Linked DNA regions of Homo sapiens. The protein of the gene in region 1 interacts with the protein of each later gene in a biochemical or structural test. Each region holds a gene or a part of one and is shown in the gene's direction. Other genes may lie near its edges.

Region 1 (10,580 bases):
GGAAAGGATTTACAGCTTTAGCTTCCATAAGGCAGTAGTTCTGATTAAGTGTCTTTAGGGAGATTAGAAATAGGACATGAGCATATGGAGTTAGGTAACTGGGGACATAGAAAGTAGAGAATCATTAGAGTTGGGGCCATGATGTTAAGCCTGGCAATAGTTAATTTTGGGGGAAGCCTCCGATTATTTTTGGGTCAGTGTCCATTCATGATCCAAACATTTCTTCTATACTACATATGAAGGGATGGGAGGGTGGTGTTAAAATAGTGGGGAAGGACACAATGTAAGGGATGGGAATTCCCATAGAAGCGATGGTAGATGGGTCTGAGATACATTTACTACCCCATAGGATATTATATGAGAATAAAATAGTTGTGTACACATGTGTTTATTAGCATGGAAAATGTTGATCATATATTAAGGTGAGATGTGCATCACCACAAATATAAACAATATCCCATTGTTTGCAAAAAAATATATTTATATAGAGAGTATCTGGAAGAAGAAAATTAAATGTTAATAGTGTATATCTGGAATTGTAGACTACATTTTCCTTTAATTTTGGGGAGTATTTTTTGTATATGTTTTAGTATTTAAATATGTATCACCATTATAATCAAACAATTATAAAGCTATTTTCATTTGGGATGATGGTGGAGAATAAACACTTGAGTGAGGAATGAGAAATTACAGCATAAGTAAAAAGTGTGAGCTTTAATGCATAGAATTTTAACATATATATTTGCTGTTATTTTTAATTACCACTTAATAATTGTGTTCTTGGCTCCATTTTGAACAAGTGGCATCAGTGGATTAATTTTGTATAGTGTAGATAAAGGAGGAAACATTTAAGATGTGTACGTGAATCCTTAGGTTACTGGCTATATTTATTTCATGGGTTTTCTACTTAATTACAAATAAAAACTCTCAAGTTCCATGTTACTGAATAGGTGTTTTGTTTGCACTCAGACCTCTACTTAGAAATTACCTGCCTTTATTCTGAGTTATAGTTATTAAACCCATAATTGGAGGCAGTTTTCAGGGAATTGGGTTGACACTCACAGAATCATCAAAATAAAAGACCTTGAAAGCTCTTCTACTTCATCTCTCTGCCTTCAAGATACAATCACATTATATCCAGATGAATTCAGTCCGATTTTTAAAGACCTCAAGAGATATCTTCATCTCCTCTTGATAGCCCGTTACAGTGTTTAAGAACTGTCGCAGTCAGAAAATTCTTTCTTCCATCTATGGGTAATCTGAATCCTTCACGGTATAGTTGAAGGCCATTTCCTCTTGTTCTCTTGTCAGAAAGGATGAGGAACAGCTGTTCACCATCTTTTTCCGTACTTAAAGCCTTATTAAATCTCTTTACCACTGCTTGCTTTTCCAGTTCTTTTTAGCTTTCTTTGTCTTCCCAACTCTATTCAGACTTTCTTTTGACATACAACCCTGACCTGGGCCAGATATAATTTTGGCCAGAACTGATTATTAATTTAAGGATTACTGCACTGTGTCTAAATACCATATGTTCACATTTATATATCTATTATTTTATTTTGAGCTATCATTTAATCTGTTGTTTCATTTTTGGTGTTATTTCTGCATGAAATTGTTGTGTTTTTCCTCCTAGTTTGTTATTGTTTTGACATGTTATTCTTAGATTGTTTTCCCACCCAGAGACATTTTATTTTGAATATTCAGTATTTTTTTGTATTTTTTTATCCTTTTAATTTTTTAAAAAAAATTACTATTTTTTTGTCCAAGGTTTTAGATACCTCAGTGCTAGGTTGCTAATTAAATTTAGCATTATTGTTCTGTTTTCCTAGTTATTGTAGAAAGGATGAAGTATCATTAGACCTTTCTTGTTTGATGTTATTTGTGATTTCGTCCCAATTTGAGATTTGCCTGGATTTGATCCTTGGACTAGTGTGGTCTGATCTAGTTGTACATGGGCTTTTTGTTAGTGTCACCAGACTTAGCAGTGAATCCCATGTCTCTTCTCCACTAAATGTTCTCACCTAACAGTTCCTGTCCAATTTCTTGAGGCATAAGCTTGACAGGAAGCACGTAATGGAATGCATAGTAACATCATAATGCTCTAGGAGAGGATTGGCATTAAAAATTAGGTGGGAATGATACGACATACCTCTTAGTTACTGATTATTGGATAAAAGGATAGCATTCTCTGAGTCTTGAAAAATTAAAAGTTAAGAGTAAATTCATGTCATGCAACTGTTCACACTAATACTTTTTCTCCAGTCAGCTCCCGCTCCCCCACTTTTCTAGGAAGTGTTGTCCAGTTTGATGATCAGAAGTTTGGTTGCAAAAAAATCCTAAAGCTTTGCTGAAACCAAGCAAGGTTAACTCACATGATACCATTCATTCTATTGACTGTGTTTTCCTGTCACAGAAATGTTTCCTTTGACAACATAGATCTGATACTGGTTACTTAAGATTAACAATATTCTTTAGGAATATTATATGATATTTCATTTTCATATTTATTTTCACTTTGAATGTGTCATACCAAATGTTAATTTTAATAAAGGTTTGGGAATTAGCTTGTTAGTTGTTAAGTACACATCATCATTCAATCAAGAATTATTGAAGTGACTTATATGGAAATTAAATATGGACTTAAACCAGATAAATTACTAATTGGTTACCATTCCTAAAATTTAATATAAGAAATTGTAATATATTTGTTTATATGTTTTCACATATTGGTTTTTACTTTGCATATGTTTGAAGTATGTTATTATATACTCAGGTATTTCAGTAATATGTATGTTTTAAAGTTTTTTGTTGTGTTTTTTTGAAAATATTATAGGAAGATAAGAATATCATGCTTACGTAACACTGAATCTGAAATATAAATGTAGTGACATGTCTTTGCTTAAAATAAACTATCAATATTGCTAGCTCCTTTTCAATATTCAGTTTTTTTCTAACATCTTTCGTGTACTTCTTTCTCAGAGAACTTTGCTTAATGAAGGGAATACTGTTAGATTGATATTATTTGCCACAGTTTTTTTAAAAGCTGAAGATGAAAAACATTACTTTTACAATGGTGAATAGCTATTAAATGAGGGAAAAAATACAATATTCGGAATCACTGTTTTTCTGTTTCCTTATAAGATGTCAATATTAGCCATTCTCCTTGGCTCTTCTTCTTTGCTGGAGGGCTATAGTCAGCCATGGTGCCCAGCAGGAATGGCATAATCCTGAAGCCCCACTTTTGTAAGTACTGGCAGTGGCCTATAGCAATATGGTTCACCCAGCCTGCAAGGAAGAGCCACAGACATGGGACTGGGCAAGCCCACTGCATTGCCCGGTGCCTTGTATCTGGACCCACTGGCCCCTAGTAAAATGCCCCACATGAGGTTTCACACCAAGTACAAGCTGGTAGGGGCTTCAGCTTGGAAGAATTAAGGGTGGCCAGCATCCACAAGAAGATGGCCTGGACCATTGATTTCTCTATTGATCCAAGGAGGTGAGACAAGTCTACTGAGTCCCTGCAGGCCAATGTATAACAGCTGTAGGAGTACTGCTGGAAGCTTATCCTCCTTCTCTAGAAACCTCAGCCTCCGAGAAGAGAGACAGCTACACTGAAGAACTCAAATTGGCCATCACACTGACAGGACCGGTAATGTTCATATGAAATACCTATACGAAGGAGAAAGCCAGAGTCATCACCAAGGAGGAAGAGAACTTCAAGACTGCCACGTCAGGCCAGGTGCGGTGGCTCACGCCTGTAATCCCAGAACTTTGGGAGGCTGAGGCAGATGGATCACGAGCTCAGGAGTTCGAGACCAGTCTGACCAACATGGTGAAACCCTGTCTCTACTAAAAGTACAAAAATTAGCCAGGCATGGTGGCAGGTGCCTGTAATCTCAGCTACTCGGGAGGCTGAGGCAGGCGAATCGCTTGAAACCAGAAGGCAGAGGTTGTAGTGAGTGGAGATCGTGCCACTGCCCTCCAGCCTGGGCAACAACAGCGAAAGTCTGTCTCAAAAAAAAAAAAAACAAAAAACCTGCCATATCAATGCCTGGCTCTTTGGCCTCTGGGCAAAAAGGACCAAGGAAGCTGCAGAACAGGATATTGAAAAGAAAAACTAAAGCACTGTTGAGGCCTTGTAATAACTCTGCAGAAAAGCTGGGAAAACGAATAAACCACTGGGAAAATAAATAAACCAAAAAGATGTCCATATTAATTTATTCACTTTATTCGTTTGTCTAATAAGAACCTACCAAACATCTGTCGAATGCTAAACACTATGCTGGGCACTGAGGATACAGTGGCCAATAAAACACACATGCTGTCTGCTTTCGTGGAGTTCACATCTTTGGCAAAGACTGTGCTGTAAGAATTTGCTGAAATTGGTCCCAGAGAATATATTGCCATATTTTCCTTTTTATCCTATGATACGTTCTAATTCTTTGCATCTCTAGATAGGTAGATTGTTGAAAGTTTAAGGGCATGTATATAAAAGCTATCTAATTTGGACATTTGTGTTTCTAATTTCACTGAAATATATATGTGTGTGTCTATATATGTACACACACATATATATTACTACTGGTATATATGTGTGTGTGTGTTTATGTACAGTATAAAAATACTAGGATACCTGTAAAACAACAACAATGTAAATAAGCAGTATGAAACAACATTGAAAAGAATACATAAAATAATTTGTATTTGAATCAATAAAATAGGAATGTATTCATCATGTATGTGTATGCATATATTAAGTATATACAACCTCAGCTATTTTGCTTTCTTTATATATCTCTTGGGAGCTTAAAATAAATACAATCCCTTGTTAGCTCATTTGAGCAGTATGGGATGAATTAAAAACAATAGAGAATTTTGTATGTTTTGTCTTACGTATCTAAATTTGAAGATATGTAGTGTTTTACATTTGCTGTTTTATTAATCTCTCCTTGAATATATCAAGTAGAATACTTTCATTGGGTATGTGTATTGCATTTCTATATGTATTTGTGTGTGTGTGTGTGTGGTGCTCGCTTATAAGAATATAACTGGATAAGTCGTGTTCTTGTTGTGGAGCAGTTTGTTGTCTAGTAGATAAATCAGACAAATTAGCTATGTTGCCTTATCACAAAATAAGATTGTAGTTGCTTTTATAGTAATATTAACATAGTACTGAGGAAACAGGCTACATTTACTCTTGTTTGAAATTTATCCCATAAAAACATTCTTTTGTAAATAAACCATATGTATCAATAAATTATCTTTAGGCATTTTGATTTTCTAAAGGCTTATTTGTATCAGTTTTCAATTTTGATCCTTATCTCAGTAAATAAATTACATTAATAACCAATAATTTCTAATTGTGTATTTAACCATCTTTATAAAACTTCCAAGTCAGTGAAAGCATATGTGAAAATAATCTTTAATTGTATTTTCCTTGAAATCTTCTTGATTATTAGGCTGAATTATGTTAATGCTAAGCAGAACTGCATGACTAATTTGTTTACTTATTTACTTTTTTAGATTTGAAAAATGTGTGAGTGCTAAGGAAGCTTTGGAGACTGATCTTTATAAGCGGTTTATTCTGGTGTTGAATGAGAAGAAAACAAAAATCAGAAGTTTGCATAATAAATTATTAAATGCAGCTCAAGAACGAGAAAAGGACATCAAACAAGAAGGGTATTTTCGCTATCTTGTTTTTGGATGACAGATGAATACATTTAAGTGGAATTTCTTCCCAAAGTTAATGAACATTAGATGCCAACTTTTTGATCATATGAGATAATTTGGTAGTCTGGATGTGGATGTTCAGGCTGTTAGATAGGGGTACCATGGGCTAGAGAGTTCTCAGCATGGTCTCTCTATGTCTGCTCAACTGTGTCACCTACACTTAAATTAAAAAACTGACATGAGGCTTATTAAAGTATTATTTAATTCTTAGACATTAGTAAGACATACTAATTTAAAAAAAAACTTTCATCTGCAGAACTACAAAAGTTGGATGCATATTTGTAATCTTGATGTCTAGGCAATGATTAACTTTAGAATCAAGTGGTTAATATTAAATTCCAGGGAGCACTTATTTTATCTGATTAGAGTGTGATTATCAGTTTTATTCTTCTTTCACATATTCTCTGAAAGTACATATGTACTTGATTTTTATGGAAGAATCCTAAGTGACAAATGGCTGATACGGCTTTCGACGATTATAACTTTTTTACGCATTAGCAAATACAAGTTAGGGTCTGTTGCTTTGAATCTTAGTAGAAGTACAGAATTACCAGTGACGTAGTATAAAAAAATTTGATATCAGCTAGTCCTAGCACAGGTACTGGTCTTGCAGTCATACCTATTAGTTTATAGCTTTGGACAAGTCACTTTATCTTCATAATAAAGGTAAAGATACCCATCTTAGGGTTTTGCAGAGATCAAATGAAATGCGAACTGTTCTGAGATTAGTAAAATGTTAAATACTCTGTGACTCACAGAGATAATTTGTTAGAAAAAGTATTTTGATGGAAGAATAGTACCTGATAAGAAACTGATTTAATATTAATTATAATAAGTACTAAATTCAGATTAAAATTAGGTAAAAGAGAAACTTGTTCTTAAGAGAGTTAATATATAGGTTTTAAGATGCTTTCATCTAAATCATATATATTTTCAATATGTTTGTCTAATTAGAATCTTTTTCTAGGAATATTTTCTATAATTGCTTACTGATAAATCTGCTGCCTAGCAGGGGGTGAGCCAGTTATTTATAATTCTACCTTTCTCTGTTTCTAGGGAAACTGCAATCTGTTCTGAAATGACTGCTGACCGAGATCCAGTCTATGATGAGAGTACTGATGAGGAAAGTGAAAACCAAACTGATCTCTCTGGGTTGGCTTCAGGTAAGAGATACATACATTTATCTCCTCTGTTGAATATCTTATTTGGGCTTCTTATTCTAATGACAAGAAACCATAATGGAAAAATGTTGTGAAAGACCTTATTCTATGAAAATTCTTTAGCATTTTTATTTTAAAAACTCAAATTTTTAATGTTAAAACTTAATATTATTTGTAAAATGCAGCAACTCATTAGCACAGCAGTGTGAGCAAGCATTCATACACATATACTCCAAGGTATACTATTCCTGGTTAAATATAACCAGGAAAAGCATAAGCAATGAGGAAGAAACACCTTTATGCTAAATATCATCAGCTTAAAGCTGGTTGCCTTTAACATTTGAGATCTTATTTAGCTAAAGCCATGAATAGGCCACTGGAGCAGAGTAATCAAGAATGCTCTAAATTATACTGAAGTTGAGGCCTTCTTTCACTCTTCAGAAAAAAGATTGCAACAAGTGAGATGTAATAGAGGAAAAGAGAAGGGGAAAAATGGCAGTTTAGTACAAAGTACCTATGACTTACTCAGTCCTTTGGATCAAGTTCCCAGCAAGTGTTTAAACCCATGAGTTATTTTTTAAAATGTTTTATAGATTTCCTAGTGACGGTGGAAACAGGAGCCTCTGAACTCATTTTATACTTAGATGGTTTTGACCTAAAACCAATACTATTAAAATAAATGCTTGATTTATTTATTTAGAAAATATTTTTGAGTTCCTATTATGTACTAGAAACTTTGCTATGCATTAGACAGCAAAACACAAAAATCTGTGCCATTGTGGAGTTTAAATTGTAGTCAGGGAAACATATAAGATGAATAAATATAAAATATGTTAGGTTGATAAGTGCTAAAGAGAAAAATAAACCAGAGAAGGCGTTAGAAAGGTCAGGGTGAGAATAAGGATGAGGGTTATGATTTTAGCCAGACTATCAGAAAAGGCCTCAGTGAGAAGGTGAAGGTGACATGCTGTCTTGGGGAAGACCATGCCAAACAGAAAACAAAAACAAAAACAAAAACAAAAAAACACTAAGTACAAAGTTCCTGACGCGTTTAAGCAATACTATAGAGTGTAATCTGGATAAAGTAGAAAGATGAAGACTGGGAGAATTAGGAAATGAGATGAGAGAGATGATGGGACCTCATCACGTGTAGGGCGATATAGGCTACCATTAGAACTTCTCCTGTTACTTTGAATTAACTTGGAAACTACTGAAGGATTTTAAACAGTCAGGTGACATAATCTGACTCAAATTTCAAGAGGATTAGTCTGTGTATTGTGTTAAGAATAGACTATAGGATGACAAATGCAGAAGAAGATATAACAGATGGGAAGCTAGTACAACAATTCGGTGAAGGATGAGGCTGGCTTAGACCAGAGTGATGGAGAGGCGATGAGCAAGGAGCAGATTCTAGGTGTGCTTAGAGGCAGCAGGATTTGCTGATGAAGGGGTTATGACTGAGCAAATAAGACTGAGAAGGAGCAGCCAGGAGGTAAGAGGCAAAAATATAAATGTGGTATCCTGCTGATTGATGGATTTAGCAATACAAACGTTATTAAGGATCTTAATAGAACATATTCACTGGATTGGTGAAGGAAGGGGATAGGAGAGAATAGGAGTTTCAAAGGGAATGGGAGGAGAGAACTGGAGATGAGACAGGCAATACTTTCAACAAATTTCACTGTAAAAAATGGGAAAGACATGGGGCGGCAGCTGGAGGAGGAAGTAGGATAAAGAAAAGTATTTTTGTTTGTTGTTTTTAAATAAAAGAAAGAATATGTTTGTATACTGATGAGAGTAACTAAAGAGAGCAGGTAAAACCATCAAGGCAGTAGACAGAGGAAAAACTACTGGAAATCTGTCTCTAAAAATATAAGTGGATGGGATCCAAGGGACAAGTAGTAGATTAGTTTAGCCAGGAGCATAGTCACTCCCCATAATGACAGGAGAAAAGGTAGAATAAACAGATGAAGGCACAGGAAAGTATCTAACTGCAGTCACAGAAACTTATTAACATTGATTAAACTGGTTGATTCATCTGATTCTAATCAGATTTGAATTGGATTACACAATACACACACAATCATACTTTTGCACTTGGGAATGAAATTTCTTTTCACTTGGCAGTTATGCTTGTTTTACCCTAGTGTCCCATTTAAAATGAAATTATTATTTAATAATCAAATAGAGAAAAACTTACAAAGATAATTTGTACTCTTTCCAGTTTAAACTTTCAGAATTTTTATTAAATACAATGACCTTTGGTCTTGTTTCTTAGTCAGAGTATCTTACCAATATTTGAAGTAGGTGAAAATTATTGATGAGAAAATACGTGGTTAAATATGGCTATATGAGAAAGAGGACTTTTATGTGTTCAGTCTATTTTAAGTAAAACTTTAAGCTACAATTGTACTATTTTCAATTTGGCAAAATTCTCCTTTCTCTTCAGAAATGTTTAGTTTATTTCATGTTCTTTCTCTATTTTACGTGTCTTTATTTCTTTAGCCCACATCTAGTTCATTACACATATGATCTATAGGTCTCTGTTTTTATTTTTTATTTTTGCATTTAACTTGCTTTTAGTAAGTTTTCGATGTCAAGAATTAATAGCATAATAGAACTTTACCCTTTTTCTTCTGCTGCAAAAAGAAATGTTTAGGAAACAGATGCTGACTGAAATAGAAAAATAAATCTCATCTCAAATGCTTGACACTGAATCAAGAACTAGATTTCATAGATCTGAGAAAGAAAATTGTAGATGTTAAACAACAAAATGGGCCACCCTATAATTTACCAGTTTCCACAATTAATTCTTCTACAGAGACAAAATATGTTTTTAGTCCATGAGAGATAATTCTGTTGAACACAGCTTTCTCTTTTTGGTACTCTATGTAGTATTACTATGTTTTTTGAGGCAGAGCAGTGAGAATTTCTTCCTGATCTTATTCTGCCATCTTGATAATAAATTACTTGCTCTTTGAATACAAATAAATTTGTGAATTTATTTTAGATATTGCAATTTCCTGTGTGCTTTTCCTACAATAAAAACAAGAAAAAGAGAATCTGATGGGGATTAATACATTTATTCAGACTTTCAGAAAGCTGTCTTTAAGTGGCTGAATATATAATTTGGTAGTTATTTTGTTATAGTAAATGGATTTTTATCATTAATTATTAAAATGCCCAAATTTCATCTGGAGTTGTTCACATTATTACCCAATTTCTTGATGATAAAATAGAGGTTTAGTGAGATCAGGATCATTTAGTAATACGAAGATGAATATGTTAATCTGAATCTGAGTATGGTAAATTTGAATTGGATTACACAATAGGCATACAATCATACTTTTGTAAATGGGAATGAAATTTCTTTTCATTTGGTAGTTATGCTTGTTTTTACCTTACTGTCCCATTTAAATGAAATTATTCTTTAATAATCAAATGTAGAAATATTCACAAAGATGGTATGGTAATTCATTCACAAATATGAAATGGCAAATTCATATTTACCGTATTCACTCTAGGGAAAAGTCTGGTTACTTTTATGCATATATCCAGAAGTAGAGTAGGGGTATTACAATTTGAAGGAAATTGTTAAGTTACATTTTTATGAATACGCAATCAATTTATGGCTTTTTTTCCTCTAAATTTTCATATTTTCCCACTGCCATTAGGATTACTGAGGAAATA
Region 2 (10,580 bases), on another chromosome or scaffold:
AGTGATGCTTTATAAATCCTGTGATAGTTGATTACTCATAGATGTATTTGAAGATAAAATAAAAATATATATCACAGTGACAGTGTTTTATATTTAAATAAATGTGTAGTAGAATAATTTGTACTTGTACTTTTTGAATAAAATGTTAAATAGAATTTTGTTCTGAAATTTTTTTTGTTACGTTTATTGTGGGTAACTATTAATAAAAATTACATATGGACTATAGAGTGTATATGAATTCATCTCAGACTTATGCCACAATAGAAAATAAACTAGAAATGGAATTGATGATGTTACTTAATTCCTAATACTATAAATTGTGAAAAATCATCAAACTACTATTGAATGTTTCTTAATATTTTTCATGTTAAATATTAAGAAAACTTGAAAAAAATTATAATTTGGAAGTACACCTGTAACCTGTGAGTAAAACAGGACTGGGTATTGTAGTGGAGTGAACTTTCATAGCTAGGACAATCAGACATTTCCAAGATATGTCTCCAGCACCTGGCACAGTGTTTGACACACAGTAGAAGTTTTAAAAATATTGATTGAATGAACAAAAAATGTGATGCTGCATAGTAATTTACTCTAAGTAAATTTTCTCTTTTGGCTGATTCTTGCCATTGACATTGAAGGCTGCCTTTGAAGGAGATTATTCCCTGTATAAGAAATACTAAAACGAACAAATAAAACAAGCGGTTAATTAGACTTTTCTCAGCTAGACACACTTCTAAAATCTTATATCTTTAGTTTTTAAAAATTCACATTTAATGAGGACAATTTACACACAGTAGAGTTCATCCCTTTTAAATGTGCAATTCAATGCACTAAAAATGATAATATAGTCATTTAAAATACTACTAGAGTGAGATATAGAACATTTCCATTTCCCCAAATGTTCTCTCCTGGCTCTTTGTAGTCTGTCCCTTCACTCCACCCCCAATCCCTGGCAACCATTAATATGATTTCTGTCCCTGTAACTTTACCTTTCAGGATGTCATATAAATGGAGTAATACAATATACCTTTTGTGTCTGGCTTCTTTCACTTAGCAAAATGCCTTTGGGATTCATCTATATTCTTGCACACATCAGTAGTTCATTCCTTGTTATTTCTGAGTAGTGTTTCATCTATAGTTTCAAATTTTCGAAAAGACAAATTCGTTGGATCATGTCTATGCATACATAAGTATTAATAACCCAACAACTTTGGATGACCTTACTGCATATTGCAGAAGTATGAGGTAATTGGTTCTGCTGGCATGTCCCACATGTGACCATGGATGTTCCTGTTCCAGAACATTTAGCTTGCAGCTATACTACAAGTTTGGGGATATTTCATAAGTAGCTCTTTAATACTTCCCTGAACTTCAGTAGCAGTTATGTGTCAACTTAAACTCAGGATTTTATTTATTTTTTCTCCAAACGTCTAACTAGCTTAGCTGATGCCCTTGCAGTTTACATTATCTCTCTAGAGGCTGGGTGGTGATCTTAATTTCTGTGGACCATCTGGACAAATATTAAATAAAGAGCTCTTAAGCCTTGACAGAAATGGCTGCCACACATCTCAAAAATAATTGTGGTTTCTAGGCCCATGATTTGGAAAGATTGATGTATTTTATGGCAATACAGCAGGTAGGAAATAAAGAACATATTCTAGTCTATATATTCTAGTATACTATAATCTGCTTTTTTTGGTTTTGCTAAGTCTGAGTAAAGGGACATAACTTAGATGTAGTTCTAAGGCAGCAGAAGTGTGTTAAATTTAAAATTAAAGACCAGTTTCTATTTTATCTTATAGAAACAGTCAAGTGCTTGATGAAGATAATATATTGAATGAAACACCAAAATCCCCCGTGATTAATTTACCTCATGAGACTACTGGTGCCTCACAACTGGAAGGAAGCACAGAAATAGCCAAGACCCAGATGACTCCCACAAATAGTGTGGTGAGAAATTTGATATCTCATCCATTTATAACATGTTCTTCAAGTTATTATGAAGGCAGAAAAGACAACTGAAATTAGGCCTATTATGACAATATTGCCAGCATTTATCTACTTTTGCTGATTTTAAGTTAAGCTCTAGAGAATATGGCAGTAATCCAACAGTTAAACTAATAGAAATAATTTCTTTGTTCAAGAAATTTTATGAACTCAGTCTACAGTTGCATATGGGTATTTTAATGGTAGTATTCTGCAAAGCAGATATTTTGCAAATTCATTCAAGATGTGTGATTATTTTTAGTAATTTATAGGTGTCTTTTTAGTCTTTCCTAGGTGAAAATAGAGACTGCAATAAGCAGCAGCCAATCCTTGCCGAGAGGAAAAGAATCCTTCCAACTTGGATGTTAGCAGAACATTTAAGTGATCAAAACCTTTCAGTACCAGCAATCAGTGGAGGTAGGTTTTTGTTTCTACTAATGCTGACTTTAAAGGAAACATTAAACAGAATTTGAAAGCTTTTCTGAAGAAAAACTATAAACTAGTTCTATAGAGATAGAGTAGAGGTTGTGTAAGTGTATAGCCTAGCCTAGTTTTTTTAGTTGTGAACATGAAGTCTAAAACATAGGCTATTACTTTATGCCATTTATCAAATACCACCCTAATTTTTTTTCATTTAACAAGTGCTATTATGTGCTAGAATTATATTAATAAAGACTTCCAAACAAACCTCTTGGTGCTATGTCTAGGATAAAAGGCCAGCACAATAAGAGGGTTTAATTTGATTTTTAAAAATGCCAGACGAATTGATATACTTTCAAGTTTACTGATTCTTTTTTCTGCCATCTCTAATTTGCTGTTAAGTCTATCTAGTGAATTATTCATTTTAGTTATTGTACTTTTCAGTTCTGGAATTCCTCTTTGGTTCTTTTGTGTAAGTTTATGTTTCTCCGATGAGATTCCCCATTTATTCAATCATTTGGTGTATTTTTCTATAAGTCTTTGATCATATTTATAATAGCTGCGTTAAAGTCTGCATCTACGTACAACTTTGCCATTTCAGACTTAGTTTTTATTGACTGCTTGTTTTCTTTTATGGGGTCACATTTTCCTGTGTATTCTGTGCCTAGTGATTTTCTATTGATACTGGATATTATGGATGATACATTGTAGAGGCTCTTGATTTTGTTATGTTCCTCTGAAGAAGTATTTTTGTTCTGATAGCAATTAATTTGGCTGGATTCAGAGCCTACCCTGTTTCCCCTGTTATGTATGGCAGCTGCAGTGTCTAGGTAGTTCCTTCACTTTCCAGCTGCTGCGTTTTTCTCTGGGTCCTTGGGCCCCATACAAATGTAGTTTAGGAGTCAGCCAAGAATTTGGGTCAAGTTTTTATGTAGGTTTTTGCTCTTGCCCCTTCTGTGGCTGCCTTCCCTCCAGGATTTTATCACTCACCTCTGCCTGTTCTCCTAGCCTCAAACTCTCTGCTCTGACCATTTAAACCAGTAAGGTTGCAGCTTTCTGCCACGTGTGACTTGGAGAAGGCCTTCAGGAAAAAAGTCACAAGTTCACAAACTTTATAGATTATAGTTAATTTTCAACCTTGACACTTCTCCAACTCTGCCTCTTTGGTCAATCTCCAGTGCCTACAGATAGTTTGAAAAATATTTTTTTCCTGAATTTACAATGATTTTATTGGCAGTAATTACTTTAGTTATGCTGTTTTTCCATTTTACCTTGAACATTGTTTTTTAAAAATTAACAGCACAAATGAATACACATTTTAGTTAGAAAATTACTACTCAGTGCTTTGTGTATTCTGCACAGTGGTCATAGAAGTCTTCTAAAGTTTTGGATCACATATATTATGTACAGAATATATCTTATTTAATGGTAGTTTGGATTATACTAGGATCAAAGTGTTCTCATGGGAAAAGTGCACTATACTTTATGTGTTAAGGGGCATGTGGTTTAATCTGGAGAATTTTCCAATCTAAGCCTAAGACTTTTGCAGTAAGTTATTCTACTACAGTTGTTTTCAGTTCTTCCCACCCCCACAGTTACTTCATGTGTAATATATATATATATATATAGGCAATAACATCTGTGTATGTGTTGATCCTCAATTTGTAGGAAGGAAATGGGGAATTGTAGTGGGGAGGGGCAGACACTTTCCCTCAGTAGAATAATTTCTCTGATAAAAGAAAGACTTAACTTGACCAAAAATTGGACCAATGTGAGCTGGTCCCTGCAAACAACTCCTTTTCTTTCAGAATTGTTTTGTACTGCAACTGCTTCTGTGCTACTGCTTATAATAATAGTTCAACATGTATTTCATTTCAAATACGTTTTCTTTCCCTTGGTAGATGTCCCACATAAAATATGAAGCACGTTTTTGGGCACTTCTCTTTGAAAATACGAATGAGAGTAATTTGACATTGGTCTGGAATATCGCATGTGTACAATGTACTTAAAATGCTAAAGCTTCAAAATAAGATAGAAGAGTCTTTGGATTCAGGTAATCTTTTTATAAACTAAGACCGTGGGAGAAGTACTTTATAAGAACAAGATTAGGTTACTTAATTCCTTTAAAGACAGTTTAGTACTTTAGAACAGTTTAGTACCTGAATCCTGCTAATTAAAAGTTAAAACAATTAGACTTATTCTGTGGTGCTGTTATTTTTTAAAAAATTGTTTTGTTTGTTTAAGTAATAAATGATGGGGATCAATAGGCCAATATGAGAGATTTTTAAAAATTAATTCGCAGGATGCATTTTGGTTTATTCAGACATGAGTAACTTTCATATGTCTTTTGCAGCTTTAGGACCATAACTGTGGTTATTGGTCTTTATGTAGATTATCTGAAACTAACTTGATATTTTGGAACCTTTGGAATCCTTAGGAACAGGACAAATAACATGAATTCATGTTATTTGACTTATCCAAGATCATATAATAAATGCCAGAGCTGTAACTGAGACCTAGCTCTGACTAACTTTAAAGCCCATGTACTAAGGCATATCACTGTATAGCTGCCTAAATTTACTCTTTATATGTTTGGTTTTTGTTTGCCTTTTTTGATCTGCCCTTGCGATCTCTCCTGGATCATCTCTCAGTTTAACTCTTTAATCCTTTATATGTAGGGGAATTTTTGCTGTTGTCAGGCTTTTTCATTTTTCAGCCAATACAGTTTATTATTATTATTATCATCACTATTATATATATATTTTTTATTTCAACAGGTTTTTGTGAAACAGGTGGTGTTTGGTTACATGGATAAGTTATTTAGTGATGATTTCTGAGATTTTGGTGCACCCATTACCCGAGCAGTGTACACTGTACCCAGTTTGTAATCTTTTATCCCTCACTCCCCGACCCTTCCTCCCAAGCCCTCAAAGTCTGTGGCATCATTCTCATGCCTTTGCATCCTTATACCTTAGCTCCCACTTATAAATGAGAAAATACAATGTTTGGTTTTTCATTCCTGAGTTACTTTACTTAGAATAATGCTCTCCAATTACATCCAGGTTGCTGCGAGTGCCATTATTTCATTCCTTTTTATGGCTGAGTAGTATTCCATGGTGTATTTGTATATATATAGAGAGAACAAATCTGGAGGCATCACGTTTTATATATATAATATATATAATTATATATAATGTTATATATAATATAATAATATATTATATATCCTATATAACATTATATATAATATATAATATAATATATATAATATAATATATAATAATATAATATAATATAATTATATATAATAATATATGTTAATATATAATATATAATAATATATTAATATATAATATATAATAACATGTTATTAATATATAACATGTTAATATATAATATGTTATTAATATATAATATACTAATATATAATAATACGTTATTGATCTATAACATATTAATATATGTTATTGATATATAATATATCAATATATAATAATGTTATTGATACATAATATATTAATATATGTTATTGATATATATAAATATATTAATATATGTCATTACTATATAATATATTAATATATGTCATTACTATATAATATATTAATATATGTCATTACTATATAATATATTAATATATGTCATTACTATATAATATATTAATATATCATTACTATATAATATATTCATATAGTAATATATGTTATTACTATATATTAATATATCTATATATTACTATATATTAATATATCTATATATGTTATTACTATATATTAATATATCAATGTTATTACTATATATTAATATATCAATATGTTATCACTATATATTAATATATCAATATATGTTATTAACATATGTCAATATATGTTAATAACATATAACAATATATCACTAATATATGTAATTAACATGTAACAGTATATCACTAATGTTATTAACATGTAACAATATATCACTAATATATGTTATTAACGTAACAATAATATATCACTAATATGTTATTAACATGTAACAATAATATATCACTAATATATGTTAATATATAACTAATATATCACTAATATCTACTGTTAATATATAACAGTAATATATCACTAATATAATGTTAATATATAACAGTAATATATCACTAATATGTGTTAATATATAGCAGTAATATATCACTAATATGTGTTAATATATAGCAGTAATATATCACTAATATGTGTTAATATATAGCAGTATTATATCACTAATATGTGTTAATATATAACCGTAATATATCACTAATATGTGTTAATATATAACAGTAATATATCACTAATATGTGTTAATATATAACAGTAATATATCACTAATATATAATAATATATAACAGTAATATATCATTAATATATAATATATCATTAGTATATAATATTAATATATATTAATATATAATATATCATATACAATATTAATATATATTAATATATAATAATATATTATTAATGTATAATAGTAATATAATATATTATCAATATATATTACTAATATATAATAATATATCGTTAATATATAATAGATCATTAATATATAATGTTAATATATTATGAATAGATAATATATCAGTATATAATATTAATATATTAATATATTATATATTATTTAATAATATATAATATATTAATAAATAATTATATATTAATATAGCAATATATTAATATATGACTGTATTATATTATTAATATATAACAATATATTATATATTATATAATAATTTATTATATAATATATAATAATATATTATATATTATATAACATATTAATAATACATAATAACATTAATAATATATAATAATGTTAATATATTATTATATTATATATTAATATATAATAATATATCAATAATGTATCATGAATATATAATATATCAATAATATATCATGAATATATAATATATCATTAATATATCATGAATATATAATAATATATCATTAATATATCATGAATATATAATAAATCAATATATCATGAATATATATCATTAATATATCATGAATATACAATAATATATCATTAATATATCATGAATATATCATTAATATATAATAAAATATTAATAATATATCATTATATAATAAAATATTAATAATCTATCATATAATAAAATATTAGTAATATATCATTAATATGTAATAAAATACTAATATTATGTCATTAATATGTAATAAAATATTAATATTATATCATTAATATATAATAAAATAATAATATATCATTAATATTAATATATTATATAATATTATTAATAATACATAATAATATGCTATTAATATACAATATCTGATAATATATTATTAATATATAATAATATATAATATATGATTAATATATAATAATATAATATATAATTAATATATAATAATAATATAATATATAATTAATATATAATAATATAATATATAATATATAAAACATATAATTTGACATTTTATATATATATAAAGACTTGACCAAAAATTGGACCAATGTGACTATATATTTATAATATATAAATATATATTATCTATATTTATTACATAATATATTATATATTATATATCATTTATATATAATATAATATATTATATGTATATTGTATATATAAAATGTCAAATTACTCTCATTTGTATTTTCAAAGTGAAGTGCCCAAAAACATGATTCATATTTTAAGTGGTACATCTACCAAGTGAAAGAAAATGTATTTGAAATGAAATACATGTTGAACTATTATAAGCAGTAGCAAAGAAGCAGTTGCAGTACAAAACAATTCTGAAAGAAAAGGAGTTATTTGCAGGGACCAGTTCACATTGGTTCAATTTTTGGTCAAGTTAAGTCTTTCTTTTATCAGAGAAATTATTCTACTGAGGGAAAGTGTCTGCCCCTCCCCACTACGATTCCCCATTTCCTTCCTGCAAATTGAGGATCAACACATACAGAGATGTTATTGACAAAAAAAAATTACACATGAAGTAATATATATAAATATATGTATATATATATATATTAGTTTCTTTATCTACTCATTGACTGATGGGCATTTGGGCTGGTTCCATGTTTTTGCAATTGCGAATTGTGCTGCTATAAACATGTATGTGTAGGTGTCTTTTTCATGTAATGACTTCTTTTCTTCTGGGTAGTCAGCCAGTAGTGGGTTGCTAGATCAAATGGTAGATCTACTTTTAGTTGTTTAAGGAATCTCCACACGGTTTTCTGTAGTGGTTGTTCTATTTTACATTCCCACCAGCAGTGTAAAAGTGTTCCCTTTTCACCACATCCACACCAACATCTATTATGTTTTTGATTTTTAAATTATGGCCATTCTTGCAAGAGTAAGGTGATAATGCACTGTGGTTTTGATTTACATTTCCCTAATAATCAGTGATGTTGATCATTTTTTCATATGTTTGTTGTCCATTTGTATATCTTCTTGTGAGAATTGTTTATTCATGTCCTTAGCCCACTTTTTGATGGGATTATTTGCTTTTTTCTTGCTGATTTGTTTTTTCTTGTAGATTCTGGATATTAGTCCTTTGTCAGATGCATAGTTTGCGAAGATTTTCTCCCACTCTGTGAGTTGTCTGTTTACTCTGCTGATTATTTCTTTTGCGTGCAGAAGCTTTTTAGTTTAATTAAGTCCCATCTATTTATCTTTGTTTTTATTGCATTTGCTTTTGGGTTCTTGGTCATGAAGTCTTTTCCTAAGCCAATTTCTAGAAGGGTTTTTCTGATGTTATCTTCTAGAATTTTTATGGTTTCAGGTCTTAGATTTAAGTCTTTAATCCATACTGAGTTGATTTTTGTATAAGGTGAGAGATGAGGATCCAGTTTCATTCTTTTACATGTGGCTTGCAAATTATCCCAGCACCATTTGTTGAATAGGGTGTCCTTTCCCTACTTTATATTTCTGTTTGCTGTGTCAAAGCTCAGTTGGCTGTAAGTATTTGGCTTTATTTCTGGGTTCTCTATTCTGTTGGTCTATGTGCCTGTTTTTATACCAGTACCATGCTATTTTGCTGGCCGTAGCCTTGTAGTACAGTTTGAAGTCGGGTAATGTGATGCCTCCGGATTTGTTTCTTTTGCTTAGTATTGCTTTGGCTAGACTTGTTTTGGGCTGTCTTTTGGTTTCATATGAATTTTGGGATTGTTTTTTCTAGTCCTGTGAAGAATGATGGTGGTATTTTGATGAGAATTTCATTGAATTTGTAGATTACTTTTGGCAGTATGTTCATTTTCACAATGTTGATTCTACCGATCCATAAGCATGTGATATGTTCCCATTTGTTTGTGTCATCTATGATTTCTTTCAGCAGTGTTTTGTACTTTTCCTTGTAGAGGTCTTTTACCTCCTTGGTTAGGTATATTCCTGTTTTGTTTTTTGTTTTTGTTTTGTTTGTTTGTTTTTTTGCAGCTATTGTAAAGGGTTGAGTTCTTGATTTGATTCTCAGCTTGGTAACTGTTGGTGTATAGCAGTACTACAGATTTGTGTACTCTGGTTTTGTGTCCTGAAACTTTGCTGAGTTCATTTATCAGTTCTAGGAGTTGTTTGGATGCATCTCTTGGGTTTTCTAGGTATATGATTATATCGTTGGCAAATGGTGACAGTTTGACTCAGTGACAGTTTGACTCATTGACTCTTTACTGATTTGGATGCCCTTTATTTTTTCTCTTGTCTGATTACTCTGGCTAGGAATTCCAGTGCTATGATGAATAGAAGTGTTGAAAGTGGACAGTCAATATAGTTCTAATTTATTTTATTTTTTATGTCTCAGGTACTAGTTCTTGGATGTTGTCATGAGTTTCTTAGGCCTGGGCTAAATTTTTTTAAATGTCCATTAGTGATGGAGAAGTAAATATATTTAGGCAAAGGCTTTCAGAGTCTCCTCTTTCTTGATCTCCAGTTATCTCTGTTCTTTCAGCCTTCCAGGCCACAAGACTAATCATAACTCTTAGGTTAGGATACTCCTGGTAGATTGAAAAAGGAGCTTTTATATTTCCACTGGTATCATGCTATTCTATAGAGCTCTTCTTCCTGCATCTTCTAAGCTACCAACGTGAAGTTGTAAAAAGTGGCACATGCTGATGAAGATTGAACTAGTCCCCATACTGTTTGGCTTGCATTTAATTTTGTACTGTGAATATTTTCACCATGGCAATTTGATGCAGATTAT
Region 3 (10,580 bases), on another chromosome or scaffold:
ACATGATTTGCCTTGTATCTAGATTTAGGTAATTAGTGATAGATAAGGGGTGTCTCTGAGTCATTCTTATTTTGCTAAGTTGATCCTGTTAAGAAATAAGTCTTAGCTGAAAGAAGACTGCTTTCTTTCCCCTTTACCTCCTTTCTTCTGCTTTGTGGTTTTTTTATGGGGGTTTTTGTTGTTGTTCAGTTTTGGTTTGTTTTTTGGTATGGAATTATGATGAGATTTCAGGAGAGAAGCCTGTGATCCTCCTTGGGTTGTTGGGGGATGTTAAGAGGAGAGTGAGGGAGAGTAAGTACCGACTTTTTGGCCGTATTCAGAAATCCTAAGTTTTCTACTATAGTGATTTTTGTGTCATTCTGACTAAATACTAACTCCTTATCAGCACTGTGTCTTTTTACTTGGATTACTTTCCCAGCAATCCAGCCTTCTTGGGGAGCTAAGTTTTTCTTTTCTTTTTTTTTTTTTTTTTTTTTTTTTTAGATGGAGTCTCACTCTTTTGCCCAGGCTGGAGTGCAATGGCACAATCTCGGCTCACTGCAACCTCCGCCTCCCAGGTTCAAGTGATTTTCCCGGCTCAGCCTCCCAAGTACCTGGGATTACAGGCACACACCACCACGCCCAGCTATTTTTTGTATTTTTAGTAGAGACGAGGTTTCTCCATGTTGGCCATGCTGGTCTCAAACCCCTAACCTCAGGTGATCCGCCCACCTTGGCCTCCCAAAGTTCTGGGATTACAGGTGTGAGCCACTGCGCCCAGCCTTGAGGAGCTAAGTTCTAATGCATGTCACCTGTGTCTGAGCCCATTCCCGTGACATACATAGGGCTGCCCCTACCACACAGCCCCAAAGAGCACAGGGCGATTGCCTGCCATTTGGATCAGTATGTTTCTCCTTTTAGGTCATAGAGACACTTCTCAAATATCTTTCTCTCATTTGTAAAGTCACTGATACCGAGTAGGATGAATTTGGGTCGGGGAAAGCAAAGGAATGATGAAAGGAGGGTGCCATTTAGTCCCTCGTGTTGGTTGGGAGCAACTGTAATGCATGCACACAGGTCCTCAGCATGTTGCTCTGTCTCATTCCATTTCTCATGATCATAGATGACGATGCCATTTATGCAATGCGGACTTTGCTTAGTGCTGTAAAAACAGTATGTTTAAGGAAGATATTGTCACCATCTTACTGATGAGGAAGCTAAGATTCAGGGGGCTAAGTAATTTACCTAAGGTCCTAGACCCAGTAAGGACCTGAGCCAGTCAGAACCAACTCTGACAGCACCTTCCAGCCCCTCTGCATTTGTGATACCATGCTCTATGCCATATAAAAGCATTCGCCTTGTTCTATTTAACTATTCAAGATTTCTATTAAGCTGGTTTCTCTAAGTATATAAGAAAAGAAAGCTGCTGTCCAAGCCGGGCGCGGTGGCTCACGCCTGTAATCCCAGCACTTTGGGAGGCCGAGGCGGGCAGATCACGAGGTCAGGAGATCGAGACCATCCTGGCTAACACAGTGAAACCCTGTGTGTACTAAAAATACAAAAAAAAGTTAGCCAGGCGTGGTGGCGGGCACCTGTAGTCCCAGGTACTCGGGAAGCTGAGGCAGGAGAATGGCGTGAACCTGGGAGGCGGAGCTTGCAGCAAGCCGAGATGGCGCCACTGCACTCCAGCCTGGGTGACAGAGCGAGACTCCGTCTCAAAAAAAAAAAAAAAAAGGGAAAGCTGCTGTCCTGTGGTCTGTAGACATTTTTAAGAGGAAAATGGAGGAGTGAGTAGCCTTTGCCCTTTGGCCTACTTTGGTTTCTGGCAATCAGAATGGAGGCACGTGCTTTATTGGAGAAGGATCCCTTTGTTTGGTGCCGTTAGCATGTGCCAAGTGATAATTGGCAAGACATCTTTTTCCGCAGACATTTGGGAGGCCCTGGGCATACTGATAGATAGAACAGAAGAGAGTGGAGGCCTTGGGAAGACAGAGAGAGAAGTATGTGTTCAGAGTGCAGGAGAGATGGAGTCCTGCTCCACCTGCTTTGGGCTCACGAGGGCTGCGGGTTCTGGAGACCTTGCTTTTGGAGCTTTGGCAAATGGAGGGCTCATAGGAGTGCAGTCAGGATGGCAAGCAGACTCGGTCACAGGAGGAATGGAGGCAACTGAGGCCGCTGAACCCGGAAAAGAACAGATTTAGTTAGAAGAAGACATCAAATAGTTGAAGTGCTGCCACAGGGAATAGTAGTCAGCCTTACTTCTCTCTGGCTTTAGAGGGACAAGAGCCCATGGCTGTAAGTCCTAAAATGACAGAATTGGGTTCAGCAGGAGGAAGAATGTTTGTGTGTCTCCCCAAATGGAGTGGTTTGTCTGAGACACACTTACTGCATGTATTCACCTTCCCGATCTAGCTTCTGCTGTGCCTTTCATGTCTTTGTGAACCTCCACAAAATCTAACAAAGTTCAAATAAGCATTCAAATATTTTTAATTAATTGATTATACCTGTAGTATGTTAGGTTTTGAGGCCAGGAATCATATACATCTAGTACATGTTTAAGCTTCCACCACACTAAGCAAATTGTTTTCAAAGACAAACGTGAAAAAAGGCAGCATCAGTACATCACCAATAATTTTAAAAGCACACATCTGTCATTGGTGACCGCGCTGGTCTGTGCAGAGCAGGCGTGTGTGTGAATCTCTGTGCTGACTGACCATATCTGGGCAGACTCTACTTGTAGGGTTTCAGATCGGATCCAGACCCTGCTAGCCGTGAGTGCTGCTATGATTGGAACCCTTTGTCCGACTTGCCTGCCGTGTGCTTTCTTCTTTTCCCTTGATTCTGCAATGTATGTATGGGATTGAGTTAAGGCAGAAGCAAATGCTACAGCACTTTTGTGTGCAGTGTGGGAGAGGTAGAGGATTAGAAAGGAAGGAAGGGCCATGACATTCTGGGATGTGTCTTATGTATTTAGGGAGACCCCCCACTCCTAAGAAGCAACAAATGAACAATTTTTAATTAGTCAAAGGCAAATTATGTGTATCATTTTATGTATTTATTTATTTTTAATAGAGACAGGGTCTCACTGTGTTGCTCAGGCTGGTCTCAAACTCCTGGGCTCAAGTGGTCTTCCCACCTCAACCTCCCAAAGTGCTGGGATTACATGAGCCACCATACCTGGCCTATGAGTCACTTTTCGTCTGGAAAGCAGCAGCATTGTCTCCGCCAGCTCCTTTGGAAGACTGGCACATAATACTTGCTCGGAGACCATGATGCGCTTTGGGAGGCTGCACAGGCTTTTTCGGGGAGCAGTGGAATGGCTGTGTTCTCTCTGCTGTCCACCTGTCTTTGTGGGTAGGTACAGCTCAGGGATGTCTTGGAGGCCTGGGGGTTCCAGGGCCAGTGTAGGAGGAGTGTGGTTTTCTGTAGAGTGGATGGTACAATTCCTTCAGAATCCCCAGTGCTGCAAGCTACTGACCTAGCAAATTGAAAGCCCCACACAGATTATTTGCAGGTTTAATATGCTCCTTTGTACTGTTTGCCCAAGTGACATCGTGAAAGACAGTGATCTGTATTGTGGTGGGGTGAGTGCACATGTGGAACTGAAAGGAACATATTTGGGTCCACACATCGGTGAGGGGCTGCATTCTCATACACATACACCCCCATTTCACTCAGAGCTTTTAAAACCTTACCTGCCACTCAAGTGATTGCAGTTCACAGCTAGCTACAATGTGCATACTTTAAGTCTCTTCAGAAGAATCACATAATAAATAAGCCGAATCCTAAGACAGACAGACAGACAGACAGACACACACACACACACACACACACACACACACGCACATTCTGTCTTTATGGAAAATGGCGGCTAATCCATGATCATTTTTTTTTCTAGAAACAGGTTTTAAGATAATATAGTAAAAATATTAAATTAGAAAATGCCTCACTAAGGGTTATAAAACCTTACTGCACTAGAGATAGGTAATTATCCCCTCTACAGCTTAATGACAGTTTAAAAGAAATAAAAATGTTAGTGCTCATTACTTGCTTTTGTAGTTTGCAATAAAGGGTAAGTTAAATTTTAATTCAAGGAAGAGCCCCTGCTATCGACCTTCTACCTCAGGTCCAAGTCCTGTTAATTACTCCGCAGGCTGCTCCCCTGCATGATACCAGCATGAACGCATTGTCTACAGTGGACACTCCCACTGACCATGAGTGTGTGTGTGCTGGGGGGTGGGGGTATTACAGATCAGTGATTTGCATCTTGATTCTTAATGTGATGGGGAGCAGGAATTATGTGTTTTTTTAAAAAGTTGATTATGCATAGCCTTAAGGGGACCTCAGGTATGAAACTACACACTTACCCTGGAGAATCTGATGGAACAAGGTTAACCTGGAGGATTGATAGTTTAGCTTCTCCACATGGCTAAATCCCAGTTAGGAAGATGCAGCCGGGGGGAAATGTTTATGCAGTGGAAGGCGGTCTGGCCCTCTGTCCAGTGGCACCTTTTTGTAGCCTCGTCTTTACTTGCAGTTTTTCTTGGGATGGGGTAAGGGCTGTGGACATGTTTTGTTTCTTTTCAGATGTCTTTGCCTTTCCCTAAGCACCTAGACACCTGCCTAGGTTTGAGGGAGGAAGAGCTCAGTGCACCCTGTGGCTCAGTCTTCACACTGGGGTATGCAGAGACTTTCCAAGGGGAAGGTAGACACAGATAGTCAAGGAGTCAGTCTTCAGACGTACGCTCTTTCCTAAAGCTGTCTGCCCCAGAGCAGGCCTGTGCTGGAGGGCTAGGTTGTCCTTTTACCCTCGTCCTTCTCTGGCCTTGAAAAGCCTCCCTCGAGCCCCTCCTTAAAGTGACATGGACCTCGGGCTGCCACAGGAAAACCTCCAGGGCCTCAAACCCAAGGACAGCTGGAAATATGGGTACAGAGATTGAGAAAGCAAACGCCTAAGGACTAGAGGACAAGCCCTGTGCAGGCCGGGTGGTTTCTGGGTCTTCACTTCCAGCAGAATCGCTGGAGAACACGAGTTGAATTGAGTTGGCAGTTGGTTGACCGTTAGGACTAATGTTTGGGGACGAGTCACTGTGCGATTTTTTGTGTGTGCTGTATAATTCAGAAAGAGCAAAAAGAATCAAGTGGCATTGCTATGCCAGAACTCTGTCATTCCTATCTGCTTGTTTATATGACAACATTTCTCAGTGCTTATGTCTACAAAAAACAAAAAAATAGGAGTAGAATTGATGCTGAACCCTCCTTCATTCTGGCAATAAATAATATTCCTCCATGGATCCATGAACAAATGGAGGGAAAAGCCTCATCCATATCATTAAGGGATGCATTTCTAATAACATTTTACACATGTATGAATACTAAATTTTCACTAAAATTAGGATATATTATATCATATTATTATATATTGATTATATCCTAATAATAATCCAGAGGAACATTTTTAAACTACTTAGAGCCTTATAATGTCAAACAATTAAAATATTTTCATTTCAATTTTTTGAATTTTAAAAATTTCAAAAGTGCTTTTATTTACAGACTAATGTGGCCAAGAAGTATGATAAGGGTGATTGATAAAAGACATTCAAGCATGAAACCATTATATTAGGACAAAACTCTGTAGGGAAAAGTCAGGTGGAAATAAAATTTAAAAAGAAAAAGGTGCTATAAAATGTCCAAGTTAAAAAGTTTATGTGTGGCCCACGCCTGTAATCCCAGCACTTTGGGAGGCCAAGACGGGCAGATCATGAGGTCAAGAGATGGAGACCATCCTGGCCAACATGGTAAAACCCCGTCTCTACTAAAAATAAAAAATTAGCCGGGCGTGGTGGTGCGCACCTGCAGTCCCAATTACTTGGAAGGCTGAGGCAGGAGAATCGATTGAACCCGGGAGGCGGAGGTTGCAGTGAGCCGAGATTGCGCCACTGCACTCCAGCCTGGCGACAGAGCGAGACTCCATCTCAAAAAAAAATAGTTTATGTGTTACTTGAATGAACGATGAGTATCAAATCATTATGGCATGTAGGTTCCATTGCAGGCATTACAAAAGTTAATTTTCACAACATCCTGGTCATTATATATTTTGTAACTATTTAAACTTACTGTGAAAAACGTTATAAAAATGTGCAACCCTACCTTCTCCAACCTAGTAAAGAGGGAGGAAGGGCTGTGCCTCCCTGTACCACCCAGCTGCTCAGGGCAGGAGCCAAAGCCAGGACCTGGAAAGAGGAAGGGCTGAGGCCAAGCTGAACCGCTGGAATCTACAGTGGGGGTGGCTGGTGGGGGGCGTGTGGGGCGGGGATCTTCATCCCCATGCTGCTCCTGGGCCCCAGGGAGGGTCTGCTTTGTCTGTCTCAGAGAAGGGAGTGGAAGAGTCAGCCAGGAGGTTGTTGCTGTGTGCTTCATGAGAAACGGTGAGATCTGACCTAGTGGAAGCCTGGAGGAGCTGTGAAGTTTGAGATGCTTTGAAGGTAAAAACGGTCACCAGCTGGTGATAGTGGGTGAGGAAGATGTAAAAGTTGAAATTGCTTGGGGACTTTTAGATTGAAATAATCCCCTATTGATATTCTCTCTCTCTGAAAATATTTTAAGAACCCAGACCACTCAGCTTCCCAGGTTGCTTTGCCATGAACAGCTGCATATGTTTGTCAGCTTTGCCCACCTGAGTGTGAAATGATGTTCTATGAAAACATGGGTTTCAGCATTTCACTCTCTGCTCCTGACACGTGAACCCTGCTGCGGACAGTAACTGCTGCCTTCGGCCCAGGCGTTGCACTGATATTGCGCGCAGAGTGGAAGCATTTGCTCAGTGGTAATGATGGGGTCTGGTGCAGGCAAGCGCGGCGAGGCTGGAAAGGGTATGATGTGAAGGGCTAGCCTCGCGCCTCTGCATTTCTTTCTCATCAGACGTTGTTGTCCTAAAGTCACACTGTCCTTTTGTTATGGCAACTCTCCCTTTCACGCCATTTAATTTTTTGTGTGGAAACAGCTAGAGAGACTTGTCTTTACTGGCAAATAGGCAGGCCATGGTGTGATGAAGTGGAGCCTGCCCTGGGCACCGAAGTATCCGTGTGACGGAGCTGCTGATTTGGAAGCCGTGGGTTTGCATTTGGTCTGGGGCTGCCGTCCACCTTGGCAGGCTTCGTCTGGGCTGATTGAGGCTAGTCACATGGATGTGTGTAACAGAAGAGCAGAAGAGATGGGTGGAGCCAAGGGGGAAGCTGTGTCCTTTGTCTGTGGCCTAGGGGTCTGCTGGGTAGTTCAGGGTGAAGGCACCAGCACATTCTTGGGATAAAATTCCTGTAATAAAATTGGAGGCCTGTTGTTTTCTGGCCTGCACTTTCACTGCCTGTCCCTCCCGCGGTCCCCAACATGATAAGGCTAGCTTACATTTGTGGCTTCTGTAGTTCTTCCTTAAGATGTTTTTCTTTTGACTTTTTTAAAGCTTTGATACTCTATTCCTTTTGTTGGATTTCCTAATTGTAGTACCTTTATTCCTATCCATAACTATAGTAGGGTGACTTCAAAAAAAGACCAGTAGTTTTTTGTGTTGAAGCCTTGCTGTTTGAAAGGTGGGGTTTTTTGGTTTTGCTTTTAAAGTCTGATGTGCCGATGCTGACCCTCAGATGATGAGAGCACTTTTAAAACAAGACGGCAGGCTGGAATTTGAGTTCCATCTTGAGAATATCCGAGCAGGTGTAGATTTCTTCTGGGGCTCCTGGCCCATGACCTCAGCCCTGTGTGCGCCTGCCCTGTCTCTGTGAGGGCTACCGGCTGGGCCTTCTGCAGGGCGTGGACATGGATGGCTGCCTCTGCGGCCACGTGCTACACGCCCACCTCCCTGATGACAGGGACGTCCTCACACGGGTCTTGCCTGCTTGGAACCTCATGGGTCCCTCATGTCTCTGCAGGGAGGATCTGCTCTGTATCCACAGGGGAAAGTGTTCTGGAGCTTCTGTCTCAACGATAGGAAAGATCCCTGCCCCACCCACACCCCTTTTAGGTTTTCCAGGCCTTGACACATGGCTTTGGCCGATGTTTGTGTGTATGTTGCATTTAAAAGAGTTTGAAAGTGGTCATTTACTTTTCTTTTTAGGGGCCCAAGACCCTGGCATGTTATTGTTTTAATGTCAAAACCCAACTTTAGAAATAAATTAGCCAATCATATTATTTATTAGACTGAGAATAGAGACAGGGCAGCTGGGGAGTGTGGAAGAAGCTTGGTTCTCTTCCTGAACAACTGCACAGATGATAGTAATTGGAATCGTGTTGCTGGCTCATTTTCATTGTTTTTCAAGTACTGCCAAGTCCAAGAAAATGTATGAAAACTAAATTATATCCCCCTACATCCCATGTCTGATTGAATCCTCCTCATCGGATGGCGGTCTCCTACATCCTATTAAAATATTCAATCTTGTTTTCTTACTTGAAGAGCCTGTCTGCAAAGGGCAAACTTACAGAACACTCATTCCCTGGAGACGGGTGTCCAGCCGCACTGGACCATTTACATATTTTACTGTTTGATTGGGTTTCTTCCTTCTGTTGTATTTGTGAGTAAGAGCTGTGGGGTGCATTTTTAATTACATGGCTGTGTTTTCAACAGAAGAAACAGAATGGGGTATTTTCCAGCTTCTGCGTTCCTTTTTAACCTTGAATAGTGAACCAGTGTGTTAACCAGTTTGCTGTGTTTGTCTTTTAGGACAGAACTGTACCGCTCTCTTTTTGGCCAGCTCCACCCTCCCGACGAAGGCCACGGGGATTGACATCGCCCACCTCCGACACCCAGTGGGCGCCTTGGCTGGTGCGGCTGCTGGTCCAGATGGAGGAAACCAGTGACTTTATGGGGCTGAGCTAGTAGGGAAGCCCCTGGAAAGATGCTGCGTTCCGAACCTGTGCCTAATACACGCAAGGGCGCTGTCCCGCCCAACCCCGCCTTTAAACGCCACAAATAAAGAGCATTGTTACCGCCACCACCGCTTGTGATTTCTTAAGAGGCTGAGAGTCAGTCTGGTTTGGTTCTAGTGGATGACACATTTACTGAGCTTTTTTTTTTCTAGTCCAGTGGCCTCCTCATACAATGTCAGACTTGACGTTTCCTTGACCCACTCACCCTGGCGGACATGTAGATTGTTTGCATAGCGTGGCTGTTGTGGGTGAAATGAACGTGGGAGTGCAGGTGTCCCTTCAACACAGTAATGTCCGTTGATCTGTATATATACCCAGAAATGGGATTGCTTGATCGTAGGATAGTTGAATTTTTAGTTTTTTTAGTAACTCCTTACAGTTTTCCATAATGGCTGTACCAGTCCACGTTCACCCCGGCAGCGTGCCAGAGCTCCCTTTTCCGCGTCTTTACCAACACTTGTTAACTTTCATCTTTTTTAAAAAAAGTTTTTATTGCCATATAATAGTTGTATACATTTTAGGGGTTCATCTTTTTGATAGTAGCCATTATAACAGGTCTGAGGTGATGTCTCATTGTGGTTTTTTTTTTCTTTTATCTTTTTTTTTTTTTTTTTTTTTTTTTGAGACTGAGTCTTGCTCTGTCTCCCGAGCTGCAGTGTAGCGGCACAATCTCGGCTCACTGCAACCTCCACCTCCCAGGTTCAAGCAATTCTCCTGCCTCAGCCTCCTGAGTAGCTGGGATTACAGGTGCTCGCCACCATGCCCAGCTAATTTTTGTATTTTTAGTAGAGACGGGGTTTCACCATATTGGCCAGGCTGGTCTTGAACTGCTGACCTTGTGATCTGCCCACCTCGTACTCCCAAAATGCTGGGAATACAGGCATGAGCCACCACGCCCGGCCTCGTTGTGGTTTTTCTGTGCATTTCCCTAATGATTAGTGGGGCTGATAATTTTTTAATAAGCCTGTTGGCCATTTGTATGTCTTCTTTTGAGAAATATCTGTTCAGATTCTTTGCCCATTTTTGAAATGGGTTATTTGTTTTCTTGCTTTTGGGTTTCTTACATGGATAAGGGGTATTCAGCCTTAGAAAGAAGGAAATTCTGACACTCGCGACAATGTGGTTGAACTGGAAGACATTATGCCGAGTGAAATGACTCAAGCACAGAAGGACAGAGACCCCCTGATCTCAATTATACGTGGAATCTACAAAAGGCCAACTCATGGAACTAAAGAGTAGAATGGTGGTTACCGGAGGCTGAGGGGGGTGGGGGAGCAGGGAATGCGACATGTTGGTCAAAGACTACAGTTTCACGTCAGAGGAAGTATTTGTTTATGTATGTATTTATTTATTTATTTATTTATTTAGAGATGGAGTGCAGTGGCACAATCTTGGCTCACTGCAACCTCCGCCTCCCAGATTCAAGCAGTTCTTCTGACTCAGCCTCCCAAGTAGCTGGGATTACAGGCCCCTGCCAACACGCCCAGCTGATTTTTTTTTTTTTTTTTAGTAGAGATGGGGTTTCACCATATTGCCCAGGCTAGCTTCGAACTCCTGACCTCAAGTGATCCGCCCACCTCGGTCTCCCAAAGTGCTGGGATTACAGGCTTGACCCACCGTTCCCAGCCAGAGGAGGAAGTTTTGAGATCTGTTATACAGCAGGGTGACTATAGTCAATAATG

The links.
Region 2: the proteins of XRCC4 (region 1) and APLF form a complex in vitro, tested with the Homo sapiens proteins (one study listed by IntAct).
Region 3: the proteins of XRCC4 (region 1) and AATF form a complex in vitro, tested with the Homo sapiens proteins (one study listed by BioGRID).

What each region holds. Positions count from the first base shown.
Region 1 is NC_000005.10:83,198,029-83,208,608, forward strand, and holds part of XRCC4 (DNA repair protein XRCC4), read left to right. Parts: intron 1-5,523; coding exon 5,524-5,679; intron 5,680-6,786; coding exon 6,787-6,893; intron 6,894-10,580.
Region 2 is NC_000002.12:68,511,278-68,521,857, forward strand, and holds part of APLF (aprataxin and PNK-like factor), read left to right. Parts: intron 1-1,802; coding exon 1,803-1,950; intron 1,951-2,270; coding exon 2,271-2,403; intron 2,404-10,580. UniProt on the Homo sapiens protein: Histone chaperone involved in single-strand and double-strand DNA break repair.
Region 3 is NC_000017.11:37,047,909-37,058,488, forward strand, and holds the end of AATF (protein AATF), read left to right. Parts: intron 1-4,346; exon of another isoform or gene 4,347-5,254; intron 5,255-8,692; coding exon 8,693-8,756; 3' UTR 8,757-8,963; downstream 8,964-10,580. UniProt on the Homo sapiens protein: Part of the small subunit (SSU) processome, first precursor of the small eukaryotic ribosomal subunit.